2 separate regions of the Homo sapiens genome follow, and region 1 is linked to region 2. The links come from fine-mapping of genetic effects on gene expression. A gene starts in region 2. The other region holds a variant in brackets. All regions are shown on one strand. Distances are from middle to middle.

What was found.
Region 1: its variant is fine-mapped to the expression of ZNF691-DT in lymphoblastoid cells (GTEx, PIP above 0.99).

What each region holds. Positions count from the first base shown.
Region 1 is chr1:42,835,329-42,839,725 of GRCh38, forward strand. ERMAP (erythroblast membrane associated protein (Scianna blood group)) reads left to right here. Exons shown (of 12, transcript NM_001017922.2): 6 at 404-436; 7 at 1,830-1,862; 8 at 3,573-3,593. LOC124904163 (a long non-coding RNA gene) reads right to left here and starts at 2,331. Exons shown (of 2, transcript XR_007066035.1): 1 at 512-2,331. The variant C/T (reference allele first, on the strand shown) is at 2,581.
Region 2 is chr1:42,844,623-42,849,019 of GRCh38, forward strand. ZNF691-DT (ZNF691 divergent transcript) reads right to left here and starts at 1,792. Exons shown (of 5, transcript NR_186083.1): 1 at 1,635-1,792; 2 at 1-62. ERMAP (erythroblast membrane associated protein (Scianna blood group)) reads left to right here. Exons shown (of 12, transcript NM_001017922.2): 12 at 1-369. ZNF691 (zinc finger protein 691) reads left to right here and starts at 1,991. Exons shown (of 4, transcript NM_001242739.2): 1 at 1,991-2,035. RefSeq lists enhancers at 1,528-1,797, 1,958-2,027.

The DNA of each region.
Region 1 (4,397 bases), 9.3 kb before region 2:
AGTTCAATAAACTGCAGAAAGGCCCCTGGGCAGAGCTGTAAATTCTCATCCTTTGAAAAATAAGAAAATAACCGACTATGCCAGCCTTCTAATTAACTAAGAAATGAATTACAGCCCTTTAATAAAGAAATCCAATTATATCCATTGGATAAGACTCTCATAAAAAATGGTCACATTTCACAGGATCTCAGGGCTGCAAGGGACTTTGAAAGTCACAGTCATGTAATCCAACACTCCTGCCCTTATCTGATGGTTTGAAGACTCTCTAATCCTTTCAAATGCCCGCTTACCTGTAGTGACAAGGAGTCAGTCCTACTCAGGCAGCTGGGGGCATCTTGGGACACTTGTGCCTGTTAGAAAAAGCCCTTCCTAAGCTGAGCTGGCATTTCTCTCTCCCTTTTAGAAAAGCTTCTCTATGAACATGTGACGGAGGTGGGTAAGTGTTCTTGGCTGGGGGGCAGGGGAGATGTTTCTTTTGTTGTTAATTTCTGTGCCCCCCATACCCACTAACCTGGATTCTGTTCCTGAAAATTCCATTATCTGCTATCCTTGGTGATGGTGGCAATGTCTAAATCCGTTGCTTCCAGTTTTTACTGCCTCTTACTTGTAATAGCTTTGCCTTCCTGTATGTTTAATGATTTTTGCCTGTGAGCTCATTGCTTGATCTTATTCTATGGGAGTCGAGTAGCTTGAACATGGGGGAAGCTTTTATTTGTTCAACAAATACTTGATAATTATCTACAAAATGCCCTGGACAATACTAGATTCTGGGGATGCAATAGTGAGTAAAAGCAGACACAGTTTTTGCCCTCCTGGAACTTTCAGTGTAGTCAGGGAAATGAGATGAATTAAATAGTTAACACAAATAAATGTGTACAAAAGCTACACAAGAAAGCTCCTGGTTCTGTGAAGGCTATGACCAGAATGAACCAACCAAGCTTGAGGGTTGAGGGTATGAAGTTTGTCCTGAAGGACTAGAAGTCATGAGTGAAGAGGGAATGGAAAACCAGCCACCGCAGAAAGAACAGCTTCAGAGAGAAGCATGGTCGGGGAAAGCAGCACTCACTGGGGAGTTGAGGAGGTGCAGGAGTGAGGGGAAAAGTGGCAGGGGTGAGGCTGGGGAGTGAGGCGGAGCTGAGCCTCCTGAGGCCTGGTGGGTCACATTCAGGATTTTAGTCATTCTCGTAAGAGCAGTGGTAAAGCAAGGAATGGGGATATCAGATGTAATTGTGCTTTGAAAAACTTGGCCGGGCATGGTGGCTCACGCCTGTAATCCTAGCACTTTGGGAGGCTGAAGAGGGTGGATCACCTGAGGTCGGGAGTTCAAGCCCAGCCTGATTAACATGGCGAAACCCTGTCTCTACTAAAAATACAAAAATTAGTGGAGCATGGTGGTGCGTGCCTGTAATCCCAGCTACTCAGGAGACAGACAGGAGAATTGCTTGAACCCCGGAGACAGAGGTTGCAGTGAGTCAAGATCGTGCCACTGCAATCCAGCCAGGGTGGCAGATTTTTAAAAAAAATCTGCAGTGAGTCAAGATCATGCCACTGCAATCCAGCCAGGGTGGCAGATTTAAAAAAAAAAAAAAAACTAAACAATTCTCTCAGGCTGCAGAGTTTAGTAGAGACCAGAGGGATTAAGACAGGATGTGGGAGACAATTTGGGCTGCCATTTCTGTTGTCCAGGTGAGAGTTGATTAGAGACCGGATCAGGGAGGTGGAGGTGAAGATAGAGGTGGACAGGTCCAAGGGCAGGTAAAATCAATAGGAATCAGGGATCCTCAAGGCAGTGGCAAAAAATCTCATTATCTTTTCCTTTCTTCCTCTAGACAATCTTCTTTCAGACCATGCTAAAGAAAAAGGTAATGATATAAAAGAGTAAGGGGTAGGGAACAAAAAACACATTCTTTATTTTTCTATGTAAATGTTGACAGTCATTATTATAAGTCTATTTTTATAATACTGTACACACATGCACACATATATCCTCCATTGATATTACTGGAATTTAGTGTGCAATGTTAAGGGGCTGTGGAGCTTGTGGCAGTGGGTAAGGAGGTGCCCAGGTCAAAATTCACAGGCCTAGATTACCATAAACTCCCTTCATTAGCCTTTCCGCCAACCATTTTAAAAAGAAGTCTACATATTATTGAAAAGTATATTAATGTGGTCATATGGGATATATGGGAATTTCAAGAATCCACACAACCTTTGCATAGAGAGAGGTGGTATGATACAAAGGAAGGGTCGCAGGCTCTGGGGTCAGTGACACCTCAGATCATTGGTCTGCCACTTAGGTTTTGGTTTCCTCATCAGCAAAATGCAGATAACTTCCCCTTACCTGATTGTTTTCAGTGTTAAAACAGGCAACCTTAAAAAAAAATCTGTCACAGTGCCTGGAACTCCTTTTCCTTATTGCCATTTTGTCTTCATTAATTTGACATTTACTGTGGGCCACTGAGTTGGACACCTTGTTGAAGTCTATCTGGGAAGACAAGTCACTGGCTCAGATGACTCCAGATTCAATGATGTCAGCGTCTCCTCTCTTCCCTCCTTACATTTCCTCCAAGCTGGTGCAAG[C/T]GTGGCGTGTATCTGGCAGACACTGGCTGTTCTGCTCAAGTGAAGAGGGAACAGTGTGGGGTAAGGGAGAGGGCCTCTAACTCAGGAGTCAGACAGACTTAGATTGAATCCTGCCTCCTTGGTCACTTACTAGCTGGAAGACCTTGGGCAAATTTTGTGTCCCTTTGAGCCTCAGACCACCCCCCTATAAAATGGCAATAATAATTCTAGGCATCTCACATTATTGAGAGGATTCAGTGCCTACTTCAGTATAAGCACAGCAGACAGTAAATGGAAGCTGTTAGTAGTGGAGATGGTAACAATAAACCATAAGCTCCTTAGGAGCCGTGTCGTATTCGGCTGCATTGCTCCAATGCCTAATGCCTAACACATGCCCGGCCCTTAGCACAGGGACTGGTGGTGGACTCAGGATGTGTAACTTCAATTGTCTAGCAGGGCCAATGCTGGGTAGGGGGAAATGTGGGCCACATGGCCCTCCAGAGAAGCTGCAAGTACTCCCCAGAAACACATGTCTCATACACATGTCCCCAAATCTTCTGGGACCTCCAATTTGTGAAATTTATAACCTCAGGGGAGTTACTGTAGAGAATAATACAGCCATATTAACAAGTTCATGCTAGGCCTTTAGCTAGTTTTACACCTTAGATACCATAAACGGTGGGCTATAAAAGGACAGCAGTGCATACACTCATGTACCGCAGTTACAAACATATAGAAACACTCATGCCGACAGCAGAAATGAAACCAGACAGATGAAAAGGAGGGGAAGGGGAAGGAGGAACCAAAGTCCCGGGCAGGCTGGGTCACTGGGACAGTGTCACCAGCACCATCAGATTTCTGGGTCTGAACTCTGGGACACGGAGCTGGACTAGGGACATAGAAGCGTCACCATCATTTTAATCTTGTGGGTTGGAGTGATGAGGCTGCCACAGCTCTGAGGAAAAAGAGGCAGGATCTGATCACTCACTCTTCTCTCTCTTTCTGGTTTTTAGGAAAACTCCATAAAGCTGTCAGTAAGTTTTGCTCCTCATCCATGGCACAAGCTCCTTCTGCTGACACTTTTGCTTTGGGATGAGCATCTCAGTTTCACTTCCTGGGGCAGAAGGGAGGGGGTACTGGTAATTCAAGCCATGGGGACTGGGGCTTTCTTGGCTCTCAAAGGCCTCTTTTCTCAAGTATTCTCTGCTCCTCTTTCCTGCACAACTATTATTTAGTCTTTAAATGAAAAACGTTTCACCAGGAAGAGATAGATGCATCTCCCATAGGTGAAGCCATCTGGAAGTCCCTTTTATCACCCAGGCATGACATTTCCTTAGATGGGGTCCAGGAGGACAGGATCCTTATTAAACTGAATATGCTGGAGCAGTACTTCTCCATCATTTCATGTGTGAGGACCTCTTTTTAACATTAAAAAAAAATCTGGCCAGGTGCAGTGGCTCATGCCTATAATCCCAGCACTTTGGGAGGCCAAGGCAGGTGGATCACTTGAGGACAGGAGTTTGTGACCAGCCTGACAACATGGTGAAACCCCGTCTCTATTAAAAATACAAAATTAGCTGGGTGTGGTGGTGCACGCCTGTAATCCCAGTTACTTGGGAGGCTGGGGCAGGAGAATCGCTTGAACCTGGGAGGCGGAGGTTGCAGTGAGCCGAGATTGCACTATTGTACTCCAGCCTGGGCAAAAAGAGCGAAACTCCATCTCAAAATAAAAATAAAAATAAATCTGTAGACATGTGACATATCTATGCATTAATTATTACATTGAGAAAATATACATGATCACAAAGTCCAATACTCAGTGATAGTTTTAAATGAAG
Region 2 (4,397 bases):
GAAGAGATGATGTTTAATTCAAGTCCGAAGGCAAGGAAAAAGCTGATGGTCCTGTCCAAAGGCTATTAGGCAGGAAGAATTCTCTTAGGGCAGAGTTAGCTCTTTTGTTCTATTCAGGCCTTCAACTGATTCAGCAAGGCCCGCCCACATTTGGGAGGACAGTCTGCATTACTCAGTCTACTGATTTGAATGTTAATGTCATTGAGAAACACCCTCACAGGAACACTCAGAATAATGTTTGACCAAATAGCTGGGCATCTTGTGACCCAGTTAAGTGGATACATAAGATTAACTATCACAGTGACTCAGTGGAATTTTTTGTTTGCTTTTGTACAGTTTTAAAATAAAAGTTTGGTATTTGTGTTTTGGTATGCTGTTATTTTCATTGTGAATGAGGAGTTGTGGGGAAGGTAAGAGATTGGTTTCCAAAGAGCTTTGAGTCCCCCAAGGCAAGGTTTAGCCACCGTTCATACTAAAGCCATAGTTTTATTCCTGAGTCTGCTCTCTAGTATTTTATTTTATCAATTTATAAACAAATAGTGTTCATAAGGCACACATATTTCACTCAACCATATTCAGTTCCAAACATGCATTCCTGAATATCCCAATCTTAAAACTAACTCACATTGTCAGCTTGTGGAGGCAGAATACATGCATACATATACACATACATACATGAATATACATATAATATACACACACATATGCATACATACACATATACACATGTATACATGTATGTGTATATACATATCTGTACTACATAGGTGTATATATATGTATATGTATTTAGCATGTATGCACGTGTATATGTATACACATATATACATATGTATGTATAATACATATTCACACATGTATGCATGTATATACACATGTATACATTAGTATATGTATATACACATGTATGTGTATTATACATGTATATATGTACATACATATCAGTCTACTGATTTGAATATTAATGTCATCAAGAAATAACCTCAATATATGTATGTATTATAACCTTACAACTATATAAAACATACATACATATATATGTATATATGTATACACATACACATGCATGAGAATATATGTATGTATATATAATATCCTCACAGTAATTCTGCCAGGGATTTTATGGGGGAGGGAGTTGGTACTCCAAATGGCTAGGTGGTAGAGCCAGAGTTTTATACTTGGTTTATCTAGCTCTGAAGGCAATGCTCCTTGTTCTTTGCACTGAAACATTGTGCAGATACGAGAAGCCTGTAGTTTACGTATTTCATTAGCCTTTTATTATTTTAAAAAATAAAACCTGAAAAAAAAGACCTAGTCCTGGATACTTTGGTGATCTTGTTGTGTCTGGATTGACGAACACGTGTCAGGCTTAATTAGGGATGCACGCGGAACCCGGGAAAATCCCTGCTCAGGGGGGCTGGAAGACCTGGAGGTTGATCCTTGAACAGGGTACTTTTAGCTTCTCCGATAAGGAGATTGGGTTATTTTATCTTTAAACTCCCTTCCAGCTCTACCCTCCTTTGATTTTAAGTTATAAACCTTGAGTGAGGTGCCAGACTCTAGGCTTCGTTGGACGTCTACAGGACGGTCAAGGATTACCAACTCAAAGTAAAGAAGGAAATTTGAGTACTTGCCCCCTTGGAGGTTGTGTAGGTTGGCTATACAGATTCTACAACTTCCCAGACGAGTGGCCCTGAGACTTGGGGCTGAACGCGCGAGCACGGAAAGAAATCCCACCGTAGGACGGAACCCAGTCTCTTCAGCTCCATCCTAAACTTCGCAAGTTTTCTCTGAGTCTACGCGCTTCCTTAGGACTACAACTCCCAGCATGCCACGCCAGCGGTCAAAGCTTATTGGTGGTCCTGCCAGGTCGCTTGCGTTGTGGCAGTCATGGTAGCCAATGGAAATAAAGAATTATCCCAAGAAACCAATCCTGGAGTAGTAGGGCGGATCCTTCCTGGGTTCCGGCTCCGGCTCCAGCTCCTTCCCTCGCCTACAGAGGCGGCGCTGTCCCTGATCGAGCGGCGGGAGCGAGGTGGGTCCGGGTTGGGCCCGAGGTCGCGGGGGGAGGCGGACACGACTTCGCGGGAAACTCTGTACACGGCCACTTCCCTCTCACCGAGGATCTGGATGCTGCTGCTTTGCTCCCTGGACCGAGTGGGAAGCCAAGGGGCCTTGTGGTCCCTCCGCCGCGACCCTCGCCCTGGCCCCCGGCCCACGCAGCCAGGTGGCTGTCCCCAACCCATTCCCCGGCCCTTCTGTTGGGTTTGAGTATACAGCCTTCCTGCCGCTGACCATACGTTTAGGATCAGCCCCTCCTCCTCTCCCACCTCTCTGGCCCCAAGCCCGCCGGCAATCTCTGAAACCAGCTCTTGTACCCTTGGACCTCCGCCATTGGCTTCTCCCCGCCCCGCAACACACAACTCAGCTCTTGGGCCCTGGCCTGTGACACTTCTGGCAGCCTTTGCTTCCTCTTCCCTGACCGTCTCCTGCGACCCTCTGACTTCCTTGGTCCTCCTGTATCTCTGACCCGTTATCTAGCTTCCCTGTACAATTACCCTGTTAGCACCTTGCTCTTGGTCTTTCATAGCTCCTCTCTCCTCTTCCTCCCTGCAGCCCTTGACTTGGCCCCAAAGACCTGTAACTTCGGACCTCCATACCGCACTATGGCTTGGCCCCTTGCCTTTAACCTAGGCGCTTCACCTTCATCATCTGTGATCACTAGCCCCATCTTCTTGGCTCTTAACTTCTTAGACCTGGCCCCTCCTCCACTTCTCAGCCCCTTCCACCGTTGCTTCTCTCTGTGCAGCTGAGCCACCAGGAAGACAAAGCCCAATAGACCCCTTTTCCCCCCAGATCTCTGCAGTGTGATATGAAAGTGCCTCTGTACTTCAGCTGCACTGTCTTCTCAGTAGGTAGTTGCCTCTTTATCTCTGCAAGTCCCAGTCTTACCCATCCTGCAAACCTTAGGTCAAATACCTACTCCTCCTTGAAACTTCTCAGCCCTGATTTCATCAGGGAGATACATCTGTATCATGTGAACTTCAGTGGTACTGTTTTTATTTCCTTCCTTCCCGTCTTCTCTCCTTTTTTCCTTCAGTAATAGTATAATGGTTAAAAGCACTGACTTTGAAGTGATGGGCATAGGCCCCAGTTCTGCCACTTACTTGCTGTGTGCCCTTGGGCAAGATACTTAATTTCTCTGAGCCTCAGCTTTCTCATCTCTAAAATAAGGATGATGTGAAGTGAAATTAGATGATTCATATATGGTCCTTAGTCCACAGCTTAGCACTTGATTCGAGCTTTAAAAAAATGTTAATAATGTGCCAGGTGCTGTGTTAGACACTGAGGAGTGGGTACAAAGGTGACTAAGGCACAGTTCCTGCCCCTGTCCCCTGAACTTAACCTTCTGCATTGTATGACAATTTCTGGAGTTCACGGTCTGTTTCAGTACACTGTATCACAAACTGAGTGGTAATCATAATCCTAAATCCTTTTGCTCTTACATTGACCTAGCATCCAGCCCCGGGTAGAGCTGGAACTTGGTAAATTATAGGTTCTCAGAATAGCAGTTTCGGAAGTGAGTGGAGGCTGAATAGCTCATTGCGTAGAGATACTGTAGCTGTAGGTCAGATGGGAGCAGGGCAGGGGGTGGGGGATGGGATGGTGGCGTGAATTAAGATCACATCCTGTCACTTATACATTCAAAAGACATTTGAGCACCCAGCTTTATGCTGCAGAAGGAGATTACTAATATGACCCAGTCCCTTTCCTCAAGTTGCTTATAAACTACTAATAGAAACAGACATGTTCTACTAGTAGTTGCAAACCACTATAAGCCAAGCACAAGATTCTGTGACTGCATAAAGGAGAAAGTAGGCAGGAATCAGGAGATTGCTGAGGAAAAGTGGGTGAGACAGTTCATGGTTACTTGTGTCCCATGAAGACAGAGCTGGTGTTTTATTCAACTCATTCAACAAATACTTATGAAGGATCTACTGTATATGGCTGCCACTACTCTAGGAGTTTTGGTTACATTGGTAAATTAAAAAAAAAACAAAAAAACAACAAAGACACCAGCTCTCATGGAACTTATGTTTTAGGGAAGCAGACAATAAATAATAGACATAAAGAGAATGTCAGAAGGTAAGATGTGCTATGGGGCAGGAGGACTGGGAGTGTGGGAGTGATTTTAATTTTTTAAAGGATGGTCAGGAAACAGTGTCTAAGTATCAAGGAATAGTTTCTCATGTTTACTTGCATTTTTGGAAGTAAAGCAAACCAATTATTTTTCATATTCTTATCTAAATTCTTCAAGGAACACTAACAGGGATTGGCAAACCACAGCTCACCTCCTGTTGCTTTAAATAAAGTTTTATTAGAGCACAGCCACACAT